Linked DNA regions of Homo sapiens: regions 2 and 3 are each linked to region 1. Evidence: fine-mapped expression QTL. Tissue or cell type: whole blood. Region 1 holds a variant in brackets; each other region holds the start of a gene. All regions are shown on one strand. Distances are from middle to middle.

What was found. PIP is the estimated chance that this variant, and not a neighbour inherited with it, causes the effect.
Region 2: it holds the start of DGKH, and the variant in region 1 is fine-mapped to the expression of DGKH in whole blood (GTEx, PIP above 0.99).
Region 3: VWA8 starts here. The variant in region 1 is fine-mapped to the expression of VWA8 in whole blood (GTEx, PIP above 0.99).

What each region holds. Positions count from the first base shown.
Region 1 is chr13:41,716,907-41,725,015 of GRCh38, reverse strand. VWA8 (von Willebrand factor A domain containing 8) reads left to right here. Exons shown (of 45, transcript NM_015058.2): 25 at 3,441-3,646; 26 at 5,274-5,425. Among named protein-coding and RNA genes, the nearest start is that of MIR5006, 150 kb to the right of the region's middle. The variant G/A (reference allele first, on the strand shown) is at 4,010.
Region 2 is chr13:42,045,554-42,053,662 of GRCh38, reverse strand. It overlaps DGKH (diacylglycerol kinase eta), which reads right to left and starts at 5,015. Exons shown (of 30, transcript NM_178009.5): 1 at 4,698-5,015. The coding sequence starts at 4,889. RefSeq lists a silencer at 4,709-5,238 and an enhancer at 5,779-5,868.
Region 3 is chr13:41,956,485-41,964,593 of GRCh38, reverse strand. VWA8 (von Willebrand factor A domain containing 8) reads left to right here and starts at 3,485. Exons shown (of 45, transcript NM_015058.2): 1 at 3,485-3,741. The coding sequence starts at 3,579. It overlaps VWA8-AS1 (VWA8 antisense RNA 1), which reads right to left and starts at 3,425. Exons shown (of 4, transcript NR_039974.1): 1 at 2,360-3,425. RefSeq lists a silencer at 3,406-3,815 and enhancers at 4,016-4,155, 4,251-4,751, 4,752-5,252.

The DNA.
Region 1 (8,109 bases):
GTGGTTAGAAAAAGCCCAAAACTGACCAATCTCATTTCAGATTCTTAACAATGGGCCTCAAGTGTCCCTAAATGCAGTCACACCGTGCTTCGGTAGACCTTTCACTTTCCTGTTCTCCTAGGGTAATTCATATCTTCTCTCTCCTCGCAGCTCCAACACTGCTGCATGAATTTCTTTTTGTTTTAAAATTATACAATACTTGAACATTCACTTACTGCAAGAGATTGAAATATAGAAGGGCTTATGGAGGGGAAAGGGAAATTCTCTTTCATTTTCCCACCAGTCTCATTCCTTCCCCATTGCTAACCAGGATTCAGTTTACTGACTTTCTTTTAGATTTCTGTTATTTTCTCCTGTCTTCCTACTGCACTGAGAAAAACGAAAGCAATTAAAAACAAATGTCCACAGACTCCTACAACCAAGTCTTCCACCTATGATGCCCTGCTTTCCCACTTGTTGCAGGTAAACTGTTCACATTCCCATCTAGAGGGAGTCCCTCCAGATGAGCACCAGATCCCGCCTTTTGAAGGTTGCTGCTCTAGCTGTTCTGCCCTCCCTCTCCTGTATCAGCAGCTTCCCTCTCCTTACATTATTCCCATCTGCAATCAGGCTATTTCCTTCATCTTCAAAACACACACACACACAAACCTCTTAATCTTACTCTTTTTGCGATCTATTGCTACTTTTTTCTTCTCCTTTGTAACAAAATTCCTCACAGTCATTTGTACTCAAAAGAGTTGTCTACACTTGCTATCTCCGTTTCTTCTGTACCATCCTCACTTAATTCCATTCTAATCAGATTTTTGCTCCCATTACTCCACAGAAACTGTTCTTATCTAGGTCATTAGTGACTTTTCTATTGCTAAATCCAGTGGTTGATTCTTAGTCCTCATCGTACTGAATCTACCAGCAGTATTTAATATAGTATATAGTTGATACAGTTAGTCACTCTCTTCTCCTTGATGCATTTTCCTTCACTTGACTTACAATACTTCTTCAAGTATGTTCTTGGTTTCTTACCTTAATAACTATTCCTGCTCAGCCTTATTTGTTGGAGCTTGTTAGAATGTCCCAAGGCTCAGGCCCTGGTTCTCTTACCTATCTATACTCATTCCTTTAATAAAATCAGAATGTGTCATGTTTTAGACTACCAATTATATGCCTGTTATTGCCAAATATTCATCTCCAACCCAGACCTTCCTCCTGAACTTCACACTCATATCCAGCTTCCAGTTCAATAGCTCCTGTATCTCGAATTTAACATGTCCATGATGAACTTTTTTTTCTTAAACCTGATTAATTTATAGTCTTTTGTAAATCTCTGTTAATGACAACTCCAAATTCATTTTTTGTTTCTCTCTTTCTCTTATGCTCTTTTCCAAATATCCTGCAATCTTATTGGCTATACCCTCGAAATATATTCAGAATTATCTTACTTTCCCCATCACTTCCATTTGCCACCATTATGATCTGAGCCACCATCGTCTCTTACCTGGATTACTTCAAATAGTCCCCTAATGGGTCGCCCTGCTTCCAGCCTTATTCTTTGTTATGAACTGTGAAAGATCTAAGAGTTTACTCTACTTTTAAGCTAACAAGTTAGCCTGCCACAGAAGGCTTTCATGGCAGAAGACACTAGACTCCTGAGTCACAGACAAAAGAGGAATGATTATTCAGCAAAAGCAGTAGTCAAAGTACCAGCATTTGTGTTGGTTCCTCAAGCCCCACTTCCCACAGGGCAACAGAAAGAGGGCCAAATGATACCTGCACTTATAGTGAGATGCCTTATAGAAGAGGAACCCAGAGCTTAGGTAACCCAAATTACCTTCTTACAAAGAAAGAAAGAGAGAGAGACAGAGAGAGAGAATATGTTTTCCAAGGCTGCACTGTTTGCTCTTCAGATATTCTTGGAAATACAGTCAATGTGGTCAGTGCCTCTGCTCACAAGATATTTATCTTCCTACACCCTTTTGTGGTGTGTTCACAGCACAGTAGTCCACGCCTCTGCTAAAATCCTCCATGGCTTCCCATTGTATTCTGAGTAGAGGTACAAGTATTTACAACAGTTTGCAGTGTCCTACACAGTATGTCTCCCACATCCTCCTATGTCTGTAACCTCGTGTCCTGTACTGCTTGGTGCTGCTCTATCCACTTCCTCTATTCCATCCACTCTGCTCTCCTGCCTCTTCCTTCCATATGCCAGGTATGCCTGCCTTAAGTTCTTTGGATTAGCTGTACCAGCTGCCTGGAATGCTCTTCCCCCAGGTATCAACATTTGCTCAGATATTACCTTCTCATGAGGTTTACCTGACTGACCTCCCCCAGCATCACCATTTCTACTGTCCTAATTAATCATTATTTGATGAGTAAATGAATGAGGGGTCAATTGTCTTTTTATGTTAGTGATAGGTTTTATTTTCAGCAAAAAAGGCAAAAGCCATTCTTCACCTTTGTATTTGAAAAGCTTTAGTATATGAGATAAAATTTTGAAGATATCATGGCTTTCATTTTATTCAATTGCTTTTAAATACACACATACAAAATAACTGTTCAAATGGTTCCTAAATCAAAGTAAGATCTTATTGCTACCTTACTAGATATCCTCATTTTCTAAAATGAACATATTAAATAATGTAAGTCTATTTACTTTTACTTCATTTGATCCCTGGTCTCTTAGATTATGAATCAATAGAATTATTTTTCTAGTACATTCTCATTTCCCTAAATTACAGATGAAATATTATTATGTTTCTACATTCCTTTTCTTGATTTTAATTCAGACAATGTCTCTACAGGTTTACTCTACCAAAACTAACCTCTAAAGTATATTCTATCAATCTGCACAAGATACAAATTTTTTAGAGAGTGATGCTACTAATTCTCCCTTTTTTAGTACATAAAGAAGCATTTATATGAGATAGATGTATATAATTTTTGAAGATACTCAACATTTGTTGAAGTTAAAAAGGCCGTCTCAGAACCATTTGAAATATATATTCCCATTAATAGAAAAGGAATAAATTATCTAAACTCTGTTTGCATGTATGCATTTTTTTAAAAAAAGTGCTAATACAGGTCTGGAAAAATAAATGCGCTAAACATTAAGACTCAGTGCTTTTTGGGGAGGGAGTGGCATTGGCATAGACTTAAAGGAGAATTTTTTTTCCTCTTTGTATTGGAATATCTCCCGGTGAGCATGTATTCAAGTATTATGTAAGTTTTTTAACAAAAATAAATTCGTGGAGATAAACCATCCATCACCCAGTTTTCTTTTCTTTTGCTTCAGTCTTTTGCTTTCTTCTCTGTACCATCCTATTGTTGGATGGGCTTTCTATGCTTTGATGAGCAACCAGTGGCTCTTTAAACAACCATTCCATTTTTTCCTGTGACATCGTAATGGATTTGTTGCATACTGAATGTGAATCTTTTCTCTCCTTTAGGTGATATTTTTAGCTGCCATGCAGTTGATAACCCCAAACCCCACTCGGAGCTCGAGATGCTCAGACAGTATGGACCAAATGTGCCTGAGCCCATCCTTCAGAAGCTTGTGGCTGCCTTTGGAGAGCTGAGGAGTTTGGCTGACCAAGGGATTATTAACTATCCTTATTCTACCAGAGAAGTTGTCAACATAGTCAAACATTTACAGGTAGGTATGGCACACACCTGTACCTAAGAGCCATCACTCTCTTTTTTATTTTTTCAGACTGTACAGTTTGTACCAGAGTTTTTAATTTCCATAAATACAATAATGAGTCAGATTACATGATTTGAAATGTGTATAATCTAAGTTATAAATATGGTAGGCCAATGAACATTATTATCTGTTCAGCTTTTGAATTAACTTTGGCAAAGTCTGTAATCATTACCAAGGAGTTAGGAAATTTGGTGGGAGGCTGTTAGAGGGCAGGTGAAGCAAGAGAGTGAGTCAGTGGGGAAACCTTCCTGTTCTGTTCTTTGGCTTTTTACAACAAGCATGTGGTATGCAGGTAAAAAATATTTTCATTTTGAA[G/A]CAAATCACATGGAGACAACAGTAAACAGAGTAGGAACTAACCGTACTGATTAAATACCTGTAAATACCGCAAGGAAGTTTCACAAGATAGAGTAGGCAGGAGAATGAAATTTCCTGCGACCATGTACAATGTGTACTCCACCTTAGTAAAGAAAACAAACAAATAAAAAATAATATAAATCTTACTTACAGAACAAATAAGGGTCTCCAAGCTAACAGTCACAACCCAACAACTCTTGACCTCTGCCTTATCCCCAACCCTCCAAGAAAACCCTAGAAAGAAAAGTAGAAAGGTGGGGCAGGGAGAATACACACAGGGGAAGATGTTGATCCAAGGATACAAAGTTCCAGTTAGACAGGAGAAATAAGTTTTTGAGATCTATTGCACAGCCTGGTAACTATAGTTAATATCAATGTAATGTATATTTTGAAATTGCTGAGAAAGTAGATTTTAAGTAATGGTTGTACCATAAATAAAGGTGTGTTAAATGATAGATATATTAATTAGTGTGATTTAACCATTCTGTAAGGCATACATACATTGGAATATCACATTGTACCCCATAAATATATACAGTTATTATTTGTCAATTAAAAATATATGGAAAGAAATCAAGATTAAAAATAACAGCTTTGTTCTGCCTATAAAACCGTAAGTCCAATTCAGCCAGCTCAGAACCCATCACCTAAAGAAAATCAAAGCAGACCCAGGAAAGGACTCAGAGGACATGAGCAGTGTAAATTCAGTTGTAGTCATACTTGTTTTCTTGCCCTCTACTGCTCCCTGTTTCTCTGTTGTTTGCACTTTTTATGTTCTTTCCTTCTTTTCTTGTTGCTTTATCTTTTCTTCTTCATTTATTCATAGACTGACTTTTCTGAAAACTTCAGTATAGATATTTAACACGCTCCTTTACATAACTAGCATTTTTAAACTGTTCGATCTGGTACTCATATTAAAGGCAGGAGATTTCAGAAAGCAGTGGCAATCACTGACACCAGGATCTAGGCACTGCTCTAACATTTGAGAGGAGGAACTCTTTCCCCTCAAATTCTGGCATTTATTTAAAAAGGAAAATATTGTTAAGTCATCTGAGCAAACACTGAAAGGGAAAAATGTCTACATTCCTACTACCTGCTTATTTGACAAGGCCAGTAAATTTCTGCTGTAGTTCATTTGATCATTATTGTCCTATCCATTTCATAAATCTTTATAATGTTGTATATTTTATCACATGCATAATAAGGGAATTTTTTTTTAATACAGAAATTTCCGACTGAAGGTCTCTCCAGTGTAGTTCGAAATGTGTTTGACTTTGATTCCTACAACAATGACATGAGGGAGATATTGATTAACACTTTACACAAATACGGGATACCTATCGGAGCAAAGCCTACCAGTGTGCAGCTGGCAAAGGAGTAAGGCAAATTCAGTACTCTTCTGATTCTTAAATGCTGATAGTTCTTGATTTATCATTCCATTCTACAAAACTGAGTTGCTATGGAAATTACTTTCCATGAGTAAGCTTTTCAAATACATGTATATGTTGCTGTTTGCTGGCTGCTTTTCAGTTAAATAGCATTATTTATAGGCCTGTAAATTGAAAATTTTGATTATTATGTATGTCCCATGAGTAGATGTAATAAATAAAGGGAAATATTTGTTTCTTTAACAGTCTCAGTCCTTTTGTTGAATTACTATGCGTATTACTATTTCGTATAATCCAGTGCACATCATTGTACGAGCATGAAAATCACATAGAGATAATGTACATTTAGTTGATATGTTCTTATTTCTGTTACTATATAGTTTTCTTTATGATAATTTTCTAAATTTATGATCATGTTAACTAGAGAGATTTTTGGTTACTTATGTCAGCTTCATAGATGAAAGAGGTAGTAAGAACTAGTGGGTTTATTTCATGTGAGCTAGTTGCCTACCCTTTATTTTATAATCATAGGCTACTACTTAATGTTAGTTAAGAATCTTGCACATATGGTGTTGATCAGAAAAGTAATTGACAGAGTTTTTTAGTAGAGTAATTAAGTCAGCACAAATTCACTAGAAAATAGTTTTCAATATGCCTAACTTATTGATAATGCATCTAATACCATCTTTGTCTATAAAAATAGTTAATTATAAATTCATAGGGGATAATAATCACTTTTAAATTACTGTTCAATTTTAGCCCCAAAAGGAGACACTATCTTTCTGTAGAAAAAAATGTGTTAAATATAAATATAAATCACTGATTATATATTAAATATAAATCAGTGATTAGCAAAAAAAGTTGCATATATATATATATATAATCTCCAAAGTGTATACTCATCCATATTTATTGATTCTTTGAAGTCATTATAAAAACTTGTCAGGATATATGCCAATAGAAATAAATTATTAAAGTATCAGGAATTTCTAAAAGAGAAACAAATATTTCCCTTCTGTGTTAAAAGAATAAGATGGACTTATCTTAGAAATTATATTATCCGTGCATTGGTTTATATTATTAATGAATAAGTAAATTATTTTCCAGAAGAATGACTGGGTGGCAGTTGCAAATGCACACTTTTTTTTGGCACAATGCTATTTTACTGATGGATTAGCAGTCCTTATGGGCATTTGAAACTAGGTCAGTAATTTAATGGGTATAACAAATTGTCTGTATAAGAGAGTTCAAGAGATCCTCTTTAATATGCAAACTTTCTATTATAAATTTTCTTTAATATGCAAACTTAAGTTATTTACTTCGTTTTTGTAAACTCCCTTTATTTTTAGCTGGAAATAAGATGGCTTTTATTACCATTAACAAATTTATATAATTAGAGTACTGGCTTTATGGAAACTAAGCTCATGATTTTAAAACAATTTCTTTTTCTACTCTTGCATGACTATAAATAAAAATTAAAATACATATTAATTGGTAAGGTTAATCATGATAAAATTTTTACTTATAAAGCAATTTTAGTTTCTAAGGAAGAAACTAAAAATGGTTTAACTTATTCATTGTCATCCTCAGTTCTAAACAGAAAAATTATTGCTATGGCAAGTTAATTCTAACTCTAGTACTTTTGAGTAGAAGCAGAAGTACTTTGAGCCTGGAAACAAGTTGGTCACACTCTTGCATTACAAGGGGATAGAAACAACTAGTTGTCCCCCAACCGCATATAGCTAGAAATAGACTTAAGCAGATGTGAAGGAAGAGTGAATTTTCCTTTTAGAAGGAGATCAGAGTAGGCTATAATTTCCACAGTCATTCAGAGCAATTTTTTCCTCATCTGTTAATTGCAATAACTTAGGCTGCTCAAAAGTAGTGTTGTTTTATTGCCCTTCTTGAAATTCACAGGTTCCGTAGCAATTTCTATCAAATTATCAGCCTTGTACTTAGAGAGAGTAGGATGACAAAGTGTAGCAATTTCTATCAAATTATCAGCCTTGTACTTAGAGAGAGTAGGATGACAAAGTGAACAAAGTAATGGCCTGGGAATTTAGCAGTTAGTCATATGTTCACCTGTCTACCTGGATCAGCCATGGAGAAACAGATGACAAGACAGAATCCTGCCCTCAAAGAGCTCACCATTCCATTTTGGTCATTTGAATTTAGAGAAGTTACTTAACTAATTCTCTATTGGTACAGAGGGCCTTTTCTTATACATAGCATATCTATTTGATTTTTAAAAATATTTTAAAATATTTGAATATTTAAATATTCAAATATTTAAAAATATTAAGGAAGTACACTGGGAGAAATTATTTTTAAAAATATTTGATTTACCATCTAAATCAGGACATTTTTGAGAAAGGCAGGGGGAGCTATTGACAATAATTCTGTAAAAAGAGTGTAAAATAAGACTGCCCTGGCCAGGCCAGAATATGCAATTATCTTCATTGTGGATCATCAGTAAGGTTCCTTTCTATTCTAACATCCTTTGAATTTTAATATAATCTTAATGTTTATCTCATCTGCAAAAACAAACATAAAAATATGTGATACTAACACTTTTCATTCCCCCTTTCCACCCCTGCCCCCCAAGTAGTGTACTGTTGATGGTAATCACATAGACCGCCAAAAAGTTAGTCTTCCCCATGCAGTCTTTGATTT
Region 2 (8,109 bases), 330 kb before region 1:
TGGCAACAGAGTAAGACTCCGTCTCAAAAAAATATATATATATACATATATAGTTATATATATACATATATATAGTTATATATATACATATATAGTTATATATATACATATATAGTTATATATATACATATATAGTTATATATAGTTATGTATAGTTACAGTTCTATACATATAGTTATATAGTTATACATATAGTTATATATAGTTATATATATAGTTATATATAGCTACATATAGAGTTACATATATAGTTATATATATACAGTTACATATATAGTTATATATAGTTATATATATAGTTATATATATAATTAGTAGTAGTAGTAAGATTTTTTTTTTATTTTACTTTAAATTCTGGGTTACATGTGCAGAACCTGCAGGTTTGTTACATAGGTATACATGTGCCATGGTGGTTTGCTGCACCAAAAATATATCTTAATCCAGATAGAATACTGGTGTGTTTTTTGGTCTTCTTTTGGGTTTGTTTTTTTCTTTGAGATGGAGTCTCACTGTTGCCCAAGCTAGTCTTGAATTCTTGGGTTCAACTGATTGTCCTACCTTGGCCTCTCAAAGTGGTAGGATTATAGGCATAAGCCACCGCCCTCAGCCTAGATAAAATGTTGATGCAAAATTCTGAATATCTTTTTAGTGTTTAGGTATGTTTTACCTAAATTTAGAGACTCATTTGTGGCCATTAGCTGTAAGAAGACATATAAATGTCAAAAAATAAAAAATAAATGAGAACACAATAAACCTCATCAGGAGTATTTTTGACACATGCAGCTTCACAACCTTAGCCGAGATGACCCAAAGGCAGAAAAAGTCATTGAGATGGTTCCCATTTGTTTATACTGTTTGGTTTATGATTGTTGAACAATCCTAGGCTGTAAGCCTGACCAAGTTTCTTCCAGCCATTCCCATAAAATGAAAGGTTGCAGTATTCATGGGCCAACAAAAAACACACAAAGCTTCTTTCACATTCATCCTCAAAACCCAATTTGTCTGAATCTGTATTAGCGTTGTTTCAAAAATATCTTATTCTCAGTAAATACCTGTGAAATTCTCTACAACAGTATGTCTGAATGCAAATCCAAAAACTCAAGAAGGTAAAGAGGGGGAAGAGATATGACAAGTGTTAGGACTCCATTTTGGCTTTCCTGCATCAGCACCACTTTCACTTTTGTACATAAGTGACTTTTTGTCTTTGGGAAATAAAGGCAGGCATAAAATCATTTAGTGTTTAGCACCTGAGTGGCTAGATGAGACCACCTGAAATTCCACTTAGGTTATTCAGAGAAAGGAAAAAGTTCAAAACAGAGGAAGAGGAAAATAGTAGAGAGGACAGCATAGACATACAAAGAAACCAGGAATAAATGGAAAATGAAAAGGGGAACAAAAAGTATACTGTATGGAGTTATGATGAGGGTGCTAAAATACACATGAGGATTTTATTAAGCCACACTGATTTCAAAAGCATACCAGTTCCATTCTTTACTTAAAAACCATCAAATCCACTATGAAAAAGCTGAGATTAGTGCATTGTCCTAAAACAACCCATATTTACTTCTGCAAAAAACTGGTTAAATGATGACATATTAGATTGAACCATATGAAGCATTCCATATTTGACCAGTTTTGACCTACTGACAAAGCAGGATAGATGAGCAAGAACTGCTTGTGCTGTCTTAAAAATGACTGGGGCTGAGGCCGTGGCTCACCCCTGTAATCCTAGCACTTTGGGAAGCCAAGGTGGGCAGATCACCTGAGGTCGGGAGTTCGAGACCAGCCTGACCAACATGGAGAAACCCCATCTTTACTAAAAATAAAAAATTAGCTGGGTGTGGTGGCGCATGCCTGTAATCCCAGCTACTCGGGAGGCTGAGGCAGGGGCAGGAGAATCGCTTGAACCTGGGAGGTGGAGGCTGCAGTGAGCCGAGATCACACCATTGCACTCCAGCCTGGGCAACAAGAGTGAAACTCCATCTCAAAAAAAAAAAAAAAAAAAAAAAAAAAAAAGATGGCTTTGAGCTAATCTTAGGGCCTACCTCTCCTCCAGGTGCTCCCATCTTACACACCTGTGCGGAGACACAGAAAGTATTTGTCTTTTTCTAAAGATCCTTCCTTAATTCTCATCTGAATCATAATTGAAGACTGGGAACCAACGTTAAATTTAGTAGTTCTCATTCTATAAATTCCCCCTATTGCTCTCACTTTCTTCCCCAAGAATCAGTATATGTGATAAAAGACGTAAATAATGAAGTCTGTGACATACATGAACAGTCCAGTTGCAGGAGGCGGGGTATGAGGTTGAAGCTCACTGGTCTCAGAATCTTATACCCTGATCTCAAGTGTTCATATATGAAAATGTTGATGAACTTACATGCACTCTAACATAGGAGAAATTGTAAAATGCTGAATTTCTGACATTCAATACACTTTTGAAATTCAAGCAATATTTGATTTCATAGTCAAAAATGATCTCTCATGGCAAAATGTATGTGCTAAATGTTTTTATTAGAAAGTCAGATAGAAAATCACAAATAATGTGCTTTTTAAATTTACTTGTAGTCTCCATAAGCATATAATCTTAGCTATTACAACGAGCGCATGAAACCTATAAAATACAGTGGTACTCCCAACAAATTTGTTGTTTGACATGATTCAATTCAATTTAGAGCCATCTCTCAGTTTTCTTTCGAACAGTATAAATCTACTGGTTAATCCTGATATAAGTATGCATGGAATTTTGACCATTTCATATAAATATGTAACATACACGTTTGTTTGTTTGTTTGCTTGTTTGTTTAAGAGACAGTCTCGCTTCATTGCCCAGGTTGGAGTGCAATGGCAAGATCTCAGTTCACTGCAGCCTTGAACTCCTGGGCTCAAGTGATCCTCAGGTACCTTGTTCTCCCAAAGTGCAGGGATTACAGGCGTGAGCCACCATGCCCGGCCCCTATACAATTTTTTTTTTTACCTGCCATTTTGCCCATCATTAACACAGTTTATGAACTTTTTTCAGAATTAAGATTTGAAATATTAAAAACACTTTTAGGAAAGTCCCTAACTTTGTAAAAGCCTTAATCTTAAAAAACACATTAAATGCCATATTCTTAATTTACTACAAACTCAAAAACGTCACTATTAAAAGGAGTTACAAGATGTACTCTTAACTAAAGTGACTGAATCCCTAACTCTTTAGTAAGTGCATCTTGTCAACAGTTGTTCTTGTGTGTTGTTCTTACACACATGTATTTCAGAAAATAAGGAGGCAGGCTACTACAAACATTAATCCACTAGCTTTTTTTTTGTCGCTCAGGCTGGAGTGCAGTGGCACAATCTCTGCTCGCCACAACCTCCGCCTCCCGGGTTCAAACGATTCTCCTGCCTCAGCCTCCCGAGGAGCTGGGATCTCAGGTGCACGCCTCAAAGCCCAGCTAATTTTTTTATTTTTAATAGACATGGGGTTTCACCATGTTGGCCAGGCTGGTCTGGAACTCCTGGCCTCAAGTGATCTGCCTGCCTTGGCCTCCCAAAGTGCTGGGATTACAGGCATGAGCCACCGTTACCGGCCTCCACAGGCACTGAATAAAAATTATGTTTCCAAATAGGAGTTCATTGACCTTAGGGAAAATTTTTCATAAAAATAACTGTAGAATGAATTTTTTGCAAATTTATTTTTAAAAACGGTACCCCAAGCCAATGATTTTGTGGTTCCGTTTTCAATATCCTCGTTAAATTTCCCTACTGATAACAGACTCTCTCTGTGAAGATTTTTAAATTACAATGAAAATTAGAATACATAAAAATCCTTTAATATCCATAAGCATTTGCTTTGGTATGTTCATGATCAAATTAAAAATTAACTTTGAGACCTCACAGGTCGACAGCACAAGCTTCATTAACAAGAGTAACACACCATCCTAATGTCCACACAGCACAGAGGTAACTTCTCATTATTAAAAAGAACCATGGACGCATGGTTCTGAACCCTGCCTGCACTTGGCGGGAACCTGCGACACGAAAGCCTGGCCAGCCCTTGGAGCCATGCAGGGTGCGGTTAAGCCGCGAACACCATGTCCCACTTGCCTGCCTCGGGGCTTCTGCCTTCCAGACCGCAGCAGGAGGCAGAGGGGCAGGAAAGGCTGACCGGTGTCACCTTCCACCCACCCTCTGAGTGGGCCTAAGTGGGAAAGCAGCAGGGCTCACTGCAGCGCAGGCTGGTTGGCCAGCACATGCGCACGCTCCCCCGAACGGCAGGGAAGAAAAATTGAAACTCTCCTTTTAAGTTCCCTAAGTAGGAACTCGCGACTGCGCGTCAGCTTTTTCCCACGCTCCCGCCGAGCCGCGGGTTCCCTGCACCCGCCTCTGCCAGTCGAACTCCCTGGGAGCCCAGGCTCGCAGCCTCCCGCGCAGCCGCCGGGAATCCGTCCCGCAGCACCGCGGTCCAGCGCCCCCGGGCCCCGCCCCACCCCTCCCCGCCCCGCCCGCGCCCCAGGCCCCGCCCCGCCTCACCGTCTCACCATCCCCGCCTTCCCCGCCTTCCCCGCCTTCCCCGCCTTCCCCGCCTTCCCCGCCTTCCCCGCCTTCCCCGCCTTCCCCGCCTTCCCGGGATCGCCCGGCGCGTTCCAGCGCCCCCGCGCCCTCTCCACCTCCCGCTTTCCACGCGGCCCTCAGGCCCGCCTCCTCCGCCCTACCTTGGTCCGGATCTGCCCCGAGGTAGACACTTTGCGGATCAGTTTCTGGGGTCCCTCTTGCTCCGCTTCGCTGTCAGACGAATCCTCTCCCGGCCCCGCCGAGGCAGCGGCGGAGGTGACCGCGGCGCCGGCTCCGGCGGCCGCTCCTCCAGCGGCGCCCGGAGGGTGGTGCTGGCCTCCGGCCCCTGCCATCCTCTCCGACTCCTGCGGGGACACAGCACCGCCCGGCGGGGGCGGCGGCGTTGGTCAGCGGGTGGGCTCTGCCCGAGCGGAGCCCGGAACCCCGTGCCCGGCCGCCGCCGCCATCTTCCGTTTCCCTAGCTACCCCCGCGAGGTAAGGGTCGCCCGGGGCAGGCGCCCTCCAGGCAGGGGTCCACCCGGCTCCTCCGCTCGGTTCCCGCCGGAGCGGCGGCCACGGTGGGACGCAGAGGTAACGGACCCCCGCCCGCCTCGGACCCCTGCGCACCCAGCCTCGGATAGGACCAGCGCGGGTAGAGAGGATGGGGTGACAGGGTTTGGAGCAACATCTCTTCCACTCCCTTACGGTCTGGGTCCCTAGGATGGACAGGAGGGTGGGGGAGGCAGGAAACCTCTGCAGCCCACCCCGTAGTGGCGATGCCCGCACACCCCCTCTCACTTCTGGACAGCAGGGGCAACGCCGATCCCTGGGGAAGAATGGGAACCTGGAGCTTCCTCCCAGCACCCTTGGGTGCACCCGCCACCTCCTGAACCCCGAATCTCTCCAGAGACACTTGGGCCTCGCCGCGCGGTTCCAGCTGAATAAAAGTCCCCTCTGCCACCAAGACAGTCGGGGGCTGCCCCTCGTCGGTTTCCCCACCCCCAGCCCCACTCCGAGGACCGTACCTCTCCCGCCTCCGCCAGGGCCGTCGGGTCCCCTCAGCTCTCCTGACGGCGGCGTTCAGTTTCTGGCCCACCCCCACCCCCATCCGGCGCACACGGAAGAGAAGAGCATTTTCCGGGAGGTTCAGCTCCGCTCTGAGAACTTTTCGTTCAGAAAGAGCGATCCCCTTCGGCTAACAGGAAACTGGGAAGGGCGTGGAGAAAGCGCAGAAACAAGAGACTACACGCAGCCCAAGACGACAGAACGCACAAGAAGTGTCTAAGCTGAAGCGCTAACCGAGATTGCCTGGAAGAAAACAATACACTCGAGCCATGCGAACACCAGTACCCGAGACAAAAAGCCTTGGAAGTCCTGGCAGAGCCACTCCCTAGCCCGGACTAGAGCAGGAGGAAGTGGGATCAACAGGCTGTAGCCACCGCGCACAACTCCCCTGCAAGCTGGCTGCGCGGGCACTTGGGAACCGCGGACTGGCAGCGGGTTGTGCACGCTCAACGTCAAAGAAGCCTCACAGGTGTGAGGGGGCTGCGGTGAGGGGGCTGCGAGAGAAGACATTAAAACGACAGATCCCTCTTGTCATCCAAAGAGAACACCAAACTGGTGTTAGCTATATTTTTAAATAGGACAAAAAGTCCCTGCCAGACTGTGGAGTCTCTCCACCTGGAGAAAGCATTCAATCTCTGTTATGTTCATGCCTTTCAGTACCATTCCTTTCGTATTTTTTCAGTTGACATGACCTTTAAGGTTCCTCCAAACTAAGGTTCTAATTTTTTTTTTTAACTTGCAGTCTTACTCCCAACAAGAAATTTGATATATTAGAGCTAACAGTTCTAAGAAGTTTTAAGAAATAGTATGCAATCCCAATACTGGACATCACACTGTAAATTAAATTCATTAAAATGTAAAATGTGTTTAGTTCAAATATTTAAAGACAGGAGACTGCTGCTATGTAATAATAACAGAGAGGCTATTTCTGCAGCTTCTGTTGTCTCCTTTAGGAAAGGAAGGAGTTGGGCAAAATGAATTTTAAGAACGCTTAGAACTCTACAAATATGTAATTCTTTATCTACAAAGAACATATTTCTGGAAATTCTTAAAAGAGAAAAATAATCAAAATAATGGCCTTCATTCCCACCTGTTTGGTCATGGACAAGTCCAATATTTTGGAAATGTAGACAAGGACACCTAGTAAAGGGTCTTTTGAAAGAATAAACTTAGTTTAGTCTTCTCCTTTAATGTAAAGAAACTAAGGCCCCAACTGACAAACTGAGACCAAAGTCAAAATCATGCGGTTAGTATTCTAATGTTCTATTCACTTTATCACACTGTATAACAAAAGTCTGTCAGTTACCATATACTTCTATTCATACATTATGTGTTTTATATAGCAACATTTTCCAGAATCCAGGCAGCGAGTGATTAAACTGAAAGGCATTATCTAATGCCCAGCCTGATTTTGTGATTTTAACAGGTCAGATTACGCATCTCACTCTTTGATTTGAACACTGATTGCTTAAAGATACTTAAAAAGTTTCATATCCCAGAGCTGAGCCATTTAATACCTCAAAGTAAAGGTATTCCTTTCTCATAAAGATTTAACCTCAGAGCCAGCTTTGCACTTCTGCAATCACCTCTTCTGAAGAGCCAGTTTCAACGAATCCATTATTTAAGATACCTGACTTACTAGCCTCTTCTCGGTCTTATCTGTAAATTAGAAGTTTTTAGAATGAATATCTAATTTGTGCACTGTGTACCTGCAATGTACTTCACCTTCCTCAAGAGTATTACAAGGTCAAGGTCTCAATCTTTCCAACCATTTCAACCATGTAGCTCAAAATAGCAACTGAAACAATTTCAAATATGTGGTATCTTACATTATTTATTTGATTTATAAGAATTCCTTGATCTTTTCCTTACTTAGTGATTTCAGATTTTTCAGTAATTGCTTAGATGCATCTTACATTTTTATTGTTACTTTGAAATCTCTGTTCAGAACATGTGACAAACACACTATTAAAGACTTCAACATAAGCTGTGTAGACACTGCATTTAGGGTGAAATGGAAATAGGTGGTAGCTACCCCTAAATTAGGTTTTTACTTAATAGAGATCCTGGCCCATTAAAACAAAGAACACCTATTAGACTGAAGATGTGTAAGTCACAGCCAAATTTCATGTCAACTTTATGAATATTCGTGTATTATTTTCTACAGAGGTATTTTGAATTGTATTTTTACTGATCACTACTCATAACAAAAGGGGTTTTATACCCATTGGCAACTTTCAAATCTCACATATTCTATGGCTTTATCTTAAATATTACGCCATAAATACGCAGAATGTTACATTTTATATCCTGAAGAGTTCAAAGTGTTCTAGGACTTGTGTTCCTAATCAATAAGGAACCATGCAAAGAATACTGCAGGTTGACCAAGTACAGGCATTGAGAAGCTGCCTTAATTAAAACTTAAGAACACGCTATTTGCTACATATTAAGAATTTAACATTCGAAACTTTTAACCTATTACCATTTCCTTAGTTGTTACCTGAATGA
Region 3 (8,109 bases), 240 kb before region 1:
CCCTTTCAGACCTATTGACTCAGAATCTCTGGGTGCAGGGAGGAACGAAACCCTATAATCTGCATTTTAATAAGTTCTCCAGGTAATTAGGATGCACACAAAAGTCTGGGAACCAGTGGTATGAACCTTTGATTTCTTAGCTGGGGTAGACAGTAGGGAGGAGTGGAGCACCCACCTTTTTTCAGTCAGACATAGCATGGAAGGATTATTAGTTGCATTTTTCATCAAGTTACATTAATGTGGTATGTAAAAAATATTCCTCCCAAACTCTGGAAAGAGCTTGACAGTCAATACTAGCTTTTGGTAGTGTGATTTTCTTTTTTCTTTTTTTTTTTTTTTTTGAGACAGAGTCTCACTCTGTTGCCCGGGCTGGAATGCACTGGTGCGATCTCAGCTCACTGCAACCTCTGCTTCCCGGGTTCAAGCGATTCTCCTGCCCCTGCCTCCCGAGTAGCTGGGATTACAGGCACCCACCATCACGCCTGGCTAATTTTTGTATTTTTAGTAGAGATGGGGTATTGCCATGTTGGCCAGGCTGGTCTCAACTCCTGACCTCAGGTGATCCACCCATCTCAGCCTCCCAAAGTGCTGGGATTATAGGTTTGAGCCACTGTGCCCGGCTGGTAGCTTGTTTTTTAATAAGCATGTGATCAGATATTTTAGTGAGAGTTTGAGAGACTTTACACAGATTGTGATGAACATCTTTTAAAACAAAACACCTTTGGTTCTTCTTTAAAAACATTGTGAAGGTCCATTCTTTCCCATTCAGTCTCATTGCCATCAGCACTGTTCATCATTTCAAGTAGAGACTATTTTTACTGCCACGTAGCTAGCACTTGATGCTTCCTGTCTTCCTAATTCAATTCATAGTATGTCACCACCTAAAACACGATCAAAAAGTCCAGTAGCTGCCCAGTTTGCTCATCGGATGAAGTCCAACTTCATCCAGCTACTCAAGATTCTTCACTCTGTAACCTTCTCCTCCTGCTCTGCCAACACCTTCTACTACTTTCGAAAGATTAACCTCCTCATCTGGCTGGTCTCATGGCCCCTGTAACTGAACTCTGTCAGGACTCCAAGCCTCTACTTAGGCTCTATACCCCGCTTCTCTGTGTATCCAGTCCTAAATGGCATTCAAAGTTAAGCTCAGGTGCTGCCTTTTCTCAGGCTCAAAGTTTTCCTCCCCATTGTAGCTTTGTCACTCTAAAAAACCTTCACCATTTTTCCATTTCCTGGAGGTTAATGTGCAAACTCCTTCTCTTGGCATACAACATGGCCCCAGATTCTCTTTCTGGTCTTATTCTTACAAACTGTTGTATATACTTGACCTCTAGACACACTGAATCACTCTCTGGTTCTCAATCATGCCCTGCACTTTCAGCTGTTTCTTTCTCTCTCTCTCTGTACATGATCTGTCTGCCAGATTTGACTTGTCTCAGCCTGACAAACTCTTGTATAATATATCCTACATGAATCATTTCAAACACTACCTTCTCTGTGAAGACTCCAGGTGCAGCAATCCACTCCACAGTATGTTGAACCTAAATCTCTTGACACGTGTCTCACTGTATTGCAATTCTTTATTTGCATATTTATCATCAATACCTAATGTGAGCCCATTGATTCACAGTATCTAGCAGGGTACTGTTTATACAGCAGTTACTCAATAAATGTTGTCGTTGGGAGGCTGAGGCAGGAGGATCACTTGAGGCCAGGAGCTTGAGACCAGCCTGGGCAACATAACAAGACTCCACTGCTACGAAAACAAAAACACAAAAATTAGCCAGGCACAGTGGTGCACGCCTGTAGTCTCAGCTACTAGGGAGGCTGAAGCAGGAGGATCACTCGAGCCCAGGAGTTCGAGGTTGCAATGAGCTATAATACTGCCGCTGCACCCCAGCCTGGGCAACAGAGTGAGACTTTGTCTCTAAAAAAAATAAAACTAGGCAAAAAATGTTGTTGAATGCTCTAACTTGTGTTGATCTCTCCATTGTCTTAACTCCAAGAGCTCTTAGTGCTTATATCAACCACTTTGCAAAATTGCCTTAGGTTGTTCTCCCATTCTTTCAGGTGTCTACTGAGTTCCAGCGAGATTAAATGGAGATATCTTGACCAAGGTATTCAATTCTTCTAGCCTCAGTTTCTTCATCTGTAAAACGGAGGATAATAATAGTACCTCAAAGCATTTTTATGTGAAATGGGATAATTCATTAAAATCTTGATACATACAATGTGCTCAAAGTAGGAAAAGCATTTTATAAGCTTACATCCTAAATTTATGTCTTAGGGTTGCTATGAGGATTAAATGAGAAGATACACATGAAACGAAGTCATAATATATTGTGTAACTACTTATTACCTTTATTTTCACTGTCTCCTCATCTAGGTTAGAAGCCTGGTTCAGCCTTCATTCCTCAAGTTCTTCCGCTGGATGCCCAAAGCCTTCCTTACCTAGCCTTGTTTGACTTTTACAGTCTCCACTCTAACACTCTCTTCTCAGCACTCATCACAGGGTCAGGCGCAGGGTAGGTGCTATGTATTTAGACAGTGGCAGCTCTAGAATTAGCAAGGTCTTTAGCTGAAAGTGAGGTCTTCTGCCTTCTTTTTGATGTTTGCTTGTATAACTTGTCTCAAATATTTTGCCTTAGTCAATTCACTGTGACATTTTGGGGATGCAGTCTAATTACATTAGGCTTAGTTTGCTTTGTGGTAGGACCATTTCCGATGTTGGAATGTACAAGAGGGAGGCAGCCTTAGCCAGTGTCCTACTTTTTCCTTTACTAAAGACATAAATCATCTTTATATAACTTTTGTATTACAGCATGACTAGAAAAGTGCTTGATCTGGATCCTTTCTGATATTTAAGCAATTTCCATCTATCACTAAGATGTGAATTTTTTCCTTAGAATTTAGGAAGCGGTAATAAAACACAGAAACAAACAACCACCACCAAAAGGACAAAGGGTAAAGCTTTCACGTACGGTTTGGAAACACTAGTGTGGTTACAATGAATCAAGACAGTTGTGAAAGTTCCCATCATCTTGTGCATGTTTTCTCCATTTCCGAAATCTGAAGCCGAATACAGGGAAAGCTCCCTATACTTACTGGGCCTTTAACTAAGAAACGAAGACTTGGGGCAAGCATCTGAAGAGTCACACCGACAAATGCTCCTAAAACCCTTGGCATTTACTGAACTCCTGAGATTCTGTGGGATCGCAGGGAAACGGCGGGTGAAGGCCTGGTGCATCCAGGTGAACAGACAGTCTCACGGACTGCGAGGCGCTTGCCAGAGCCCAGCGCCGCAGCTCGGAGCACCCCCGCGGTGCGGGCAGTCCCGGGACGGTGCCGGCTCTTTGGGCTGGAGCTCCGCAGGCTCTTTCCGCCCGTCTGGGCCATGCAGGGCCGGGTAGGGCCGGGCTGAGTCTACTGAGCCGGCCGCGCCGCGGGGGAAGGAGTTTCCGGCGGACTCGGCTAGGTGCCGCTTCCTGTCCCCTTCTCCGCGCTGCCTCACGGTGCCTGCACGGGACGCCGCTCGATCCCCGAGCCCCCTCGCCGTCCCCGACAGCCCCCCCGGCGCCATGCAATCCCGGCTTCTACTCCTCGGGGCACCCGGAGGCCACGGCGGCCCGGCCTCGCGGCGCATGCGGCTGCTCCTGCGGCAGGTGGTGCAGCGCAGGCCGGGTGGCGACAGGCAGCGGCCGGAGGTCAGACTGTTGCACGCCGGCTCGGGGGCCGACACAGGTAACTCGGGGTGCGCCCCTGTCCTCCCTGGTGCCCCTGCGCTCCGTGCCGGGTCCCCGCGCGCCCCCGCCCCTCCTCTCTGTTGCTTCGCTGCGCTTGGAAGGACCGTTTGCCGAGCGGGGAGCTGAAAGATTGAGGTTCTAGTCCCGACCTCGGCGCTAACTGCTGTGTAACGTGGGGGCAAGGCGCTCGCCCTCTCTGTGCCTGATTCTGCAACCCGAGGGGTCTGGACTAAGGTTTCTGATGACCTAGAAGAGTGATTTCTCCTTCCCCTGCCGCTGCCTTTACCCCCAGAATTCTGACTTAGGTTATAATACTCGTAGAGGTTAATGCCTCAGCCCTATGGAATTATTGAAAGCTGGATTTGACCTTGCTCTCTGAGCCTCAAGGGCCTGGAAGCCGGTCTGTGTCATGTTCTAGCCAGGGCTTGTGGCGGCTTAGAAGGGAACATTCTTGCCAAAGAACCCATAGTTCACGGTGTTTTAAATGCATCCCCGAGCCTTTCCAAGTTTTACAGGAGTTTTCCTTAAAGTTTCACGTAATTCTTAGAGCTGACAGTTACACCTTAATTTAGTTAAAACACTTGCCTCTACAAATGAGGTAATTGAAACCCAGAAGGGAAAAGTGATTCGCTGGAGAACACACAACTAATTACTATGCTAGAATCACATGCTTTGATTTCTAAGCTCAGTATTTTTTGGCTCTACTTGAGCTGGTTTTAGGAATTCTTTTTCTTGTGTGTTGGTGGAGTTAGAGTTACTGTGATGGTTAAGGAAAGGATATCTGTTGTTGCTACCCTTGAATGGTGAAGTGATTCCAGACAAGATTTTGTCAATGTCAGTGCTGCTTGGAATAACAGGTTTTCACTATGAAATTGTAGGTTTCGTTGTCCTCTTGCATTTTCCCCGCAACCCCCAGTTTTCCTTGCTAAGAAATGAGCATATGGGCCGGGCGCGGTGGCTCACGCCTGTAATCCCAGCACTTTGGGAGGCTGAGGCGGGCGGATCACGGGGTCAGGAGATCGAGACCATCCTGGCTAACACGGTGAAACCCCCGTGTCTACTAAAAAGAAAATACAGAAAAATTAGCCGGGCGTGGTGGCGGGCGCCAGTAATCCCAGCTACTCCGGAGGCTGAGGCAGAAGAATGGCGTGAACCCGGGAGGCGGAGCTTGGAGTGACCGGAGCCACTGCACTCCGGCCTGGGCGACAGAGCAAGACTCCATCTCAAAAAAAAAAAAAAAAAAAGCATATTTAGGTCCCACGTATTTCGTTTTATTCATTGAAGACATACACCACCCCCGTCCCCCACCATAGTGTTGCAATTTCAAATTTTACTTTTTGTTTTTTTTTTTTTTTTTGCTTTTTCTCAATTACTCTCACTTCTGGGCTGTTTATTCATTTGTTTTTTACATTTTTTGTGTGTTCTTTATTTGTTTTTTGCTCCTTTGCCCTAGAAGGCAGAGGTCAAAGGTGGAAGTATAGCATAAACTATAGGTTGGGTTTTGGAGTTAAACAATTTGGGTTGGAATCCACTTATCCACTATCTAACCATGGGTCGTTGAGGGTAGGTTACTTAACTTTGTGTCCTAGTTTTCTTAACTGTAAAAGGATAAGAAGAATATATCTATTATGGTTGTTGTGAGGATTTATTAATTAATATAATCTGTGGCACATATTAATGCTCAATAAAAGTTAGCTTTTTTATTCTTAGTATGTACAGTTTTAGCTATTTGAGAATTATTCTGTTTCCTTGCCTTTAGAAGACATGAAACCAAGTTTGTTTAGATTCAGGACTGTTCAGACTATCTGGGTAGGCAGATTTAGCCGAGTGAATTGACTTGAACTTTTTAAAAAACAATTGTTCTTTGTACATGGATAATACATGTTGATTGTAAAAACACATGTGGGTGTGAGTTTTTAAAGTCTGTATTATATACGTATTGGTAGATAAGTTGTAAATGTCCTCAAATTTTGTTATAGCCAGTAAATCAAAGTATAGGCTTTGCTTCAAATGTGAGAGTCATGGACATATTACAGAGAACATACTATCTTCTTTAAATCAGTCATTTACTCTGGCAGGATCAGACCAAAAAGAGGTATTTTTTGAGGGTGTGAGAACTGTAACTGAATGCAGCTGGGAACCCACCAGAGATCTGGACTTGAGTAAGAGCAGTTGTGAGCCAGGTAAATGGACAGCACACTTTTGGCTACTCTGAGGCCTGAGAGTAAGGCTATCAAGATGGAAGTGTCCCATTTTGAATCAGAGATCATACATGGACAAGTGTAAAACTACAAATAGCAATAGGCCATAATGGATTACATCTTATGTTGGGATGATGCTCTCAGCTGCATTCATACATGTGACCAGTAACTGATTATCTCCTCTCTCTGTAATTGACATTGCTTCCTAATAGTTTGAAAAAAGAACAACAAAGTTCATAAATAATATATTTAAGTTATATACTGCTGTTATTTCTCCTGGAGTATTTGTTTTGTTTATCTATATATTCGTTTGGTGCCTGCCAACACTTTGTACCTAGTAAGCATTCAGTGGCTTATTTTGTGAAAGTTCATACAGAGAAGGAGCAGGAGAGGCTGGAATTGTCGTTTGCTCTCAAGAGAGGACCTTTGTTAAGCCTGATAAGCAGAAGGAAAATAGGTCATTTATGTTAAAAACAAAACAAGCAGATAAACTCAACCCAAACCCACTGCTTTTTATCCTGTGCTGTCAGATAGTATAAGTATCTATAATTGTAAATTCTTTATATCTCTTTATACTTCCATTAAAATTACTGTCTCTTGGTTTTAAGAGCAAAGAGGTTAACAAGGATATCTACTGCAGAGAGTTTTCAATAAAGATTATTGTAGTGTTTTTACAGATGGAGCCAAGCAAGTTGTTTCAGTGGGACTCTGATGTTAAATGGATTCAAATATACTATAGATCAAATGATAAACCTAGAAACATAACTGTATAAATATATCATGACATTTTGGTGCTTTCCTTTAACGCCATTATTATTAAAGGGATTCACAGTTTTTTCTTTATGACTCTTGTATATGAAGTAAATTTGTTTATAGAAATACCCTAAAATACTTTTACACAGCAATCTATGTTTATTATAGAAGAGTGATAAGTACAGATTCCCTAAAACATGATCCTCCCACCCAAATTTATAATTATCAACTTTTTAGCATTAATCCTATCAGATTACATATATATGTATAATTATTTATTTATTTATTTTTGAGATGGAGTCTTGCTGTGGCACCCAGGCTGGAGTGCAGTGGAGCAGTCTTGGCTTACTGCAACCTCCACCTCCTGGGTTCAAGCGATTCTCCTGCTTCAGCCTCCCAAGTAGCTGGGACTACAGGTGTGCACCACTGTATTAATCTGTTCTCACACTGCTATAAGGACATGCCAGAGACTGGGTAATTTATGAAGAAAAAGAGGTTTCATGGACTCAATAGTTTCGCATGGCTGGGTAGGCCTCACAATCATTGTGGAAGGCGAAGGAGGAGAAAAGTCACGTCTTACATAGCGGCAAGTAAGAGAGCTTGTGTACAGAAACTCCCCTTTATAGAACCATCAGACCTCGTGAGACTTTTTCACTACCACGAGAACAGCACAGGAAAAACCTGCCCCCATGATTCAATTACCTCCCACTGGGTCCCTCCCATGACACATGGGGATTATGGGAGCTAGAATTCAAGACAAGATTTGGGTCGGACACAGGCAAACCATATGAGCCACCCCAGCTAATTTTTGTATTTTTGGTAGAGATGGGGTTTCACCATGTTGGCCAGGCTGGTCTCGAACTCCTGACTTAAAGTGATCTGCCCATCTTTGCCTCCCAAAGTGCTGGGATTACAGATTTGAGCCACTGTGCCTGGATGATATGTATATTTATACAGATACATTTTTTTAAAGAAATGGGATCATGTATGTTTTATAATTATTACATCCATTATTGTGAACATATTAACATGGTAATAAATATCATTGTACATGATTGTTTAAAGTAGTTATTAAGTTTATATGTTTGTCCATATAATTTATTTTACTGTCTCATTCTTGCACATTCATGTTGTCTAAAATATATAAACAATGCAATAAACATCCATCTACATGAATTTTTGTTATTTTAAGATTATATCCTTGGGCTACAATAGGATTAGATAGAAATAACTTTGAGGAGGGGAAATATAGAACTGTGGCTTCAACTGAGAAATACAGTGTAAAGAGGAAAGAACTATACTGTGGTTTTGGTCTAAGTTTTGTATTTATCAGGTATTGAACCTTGGGGAAATTATTAACTACTTTAAACCTGCAGCAGGTTATTTTGACCCTGAGGATATTCTGACCCCAT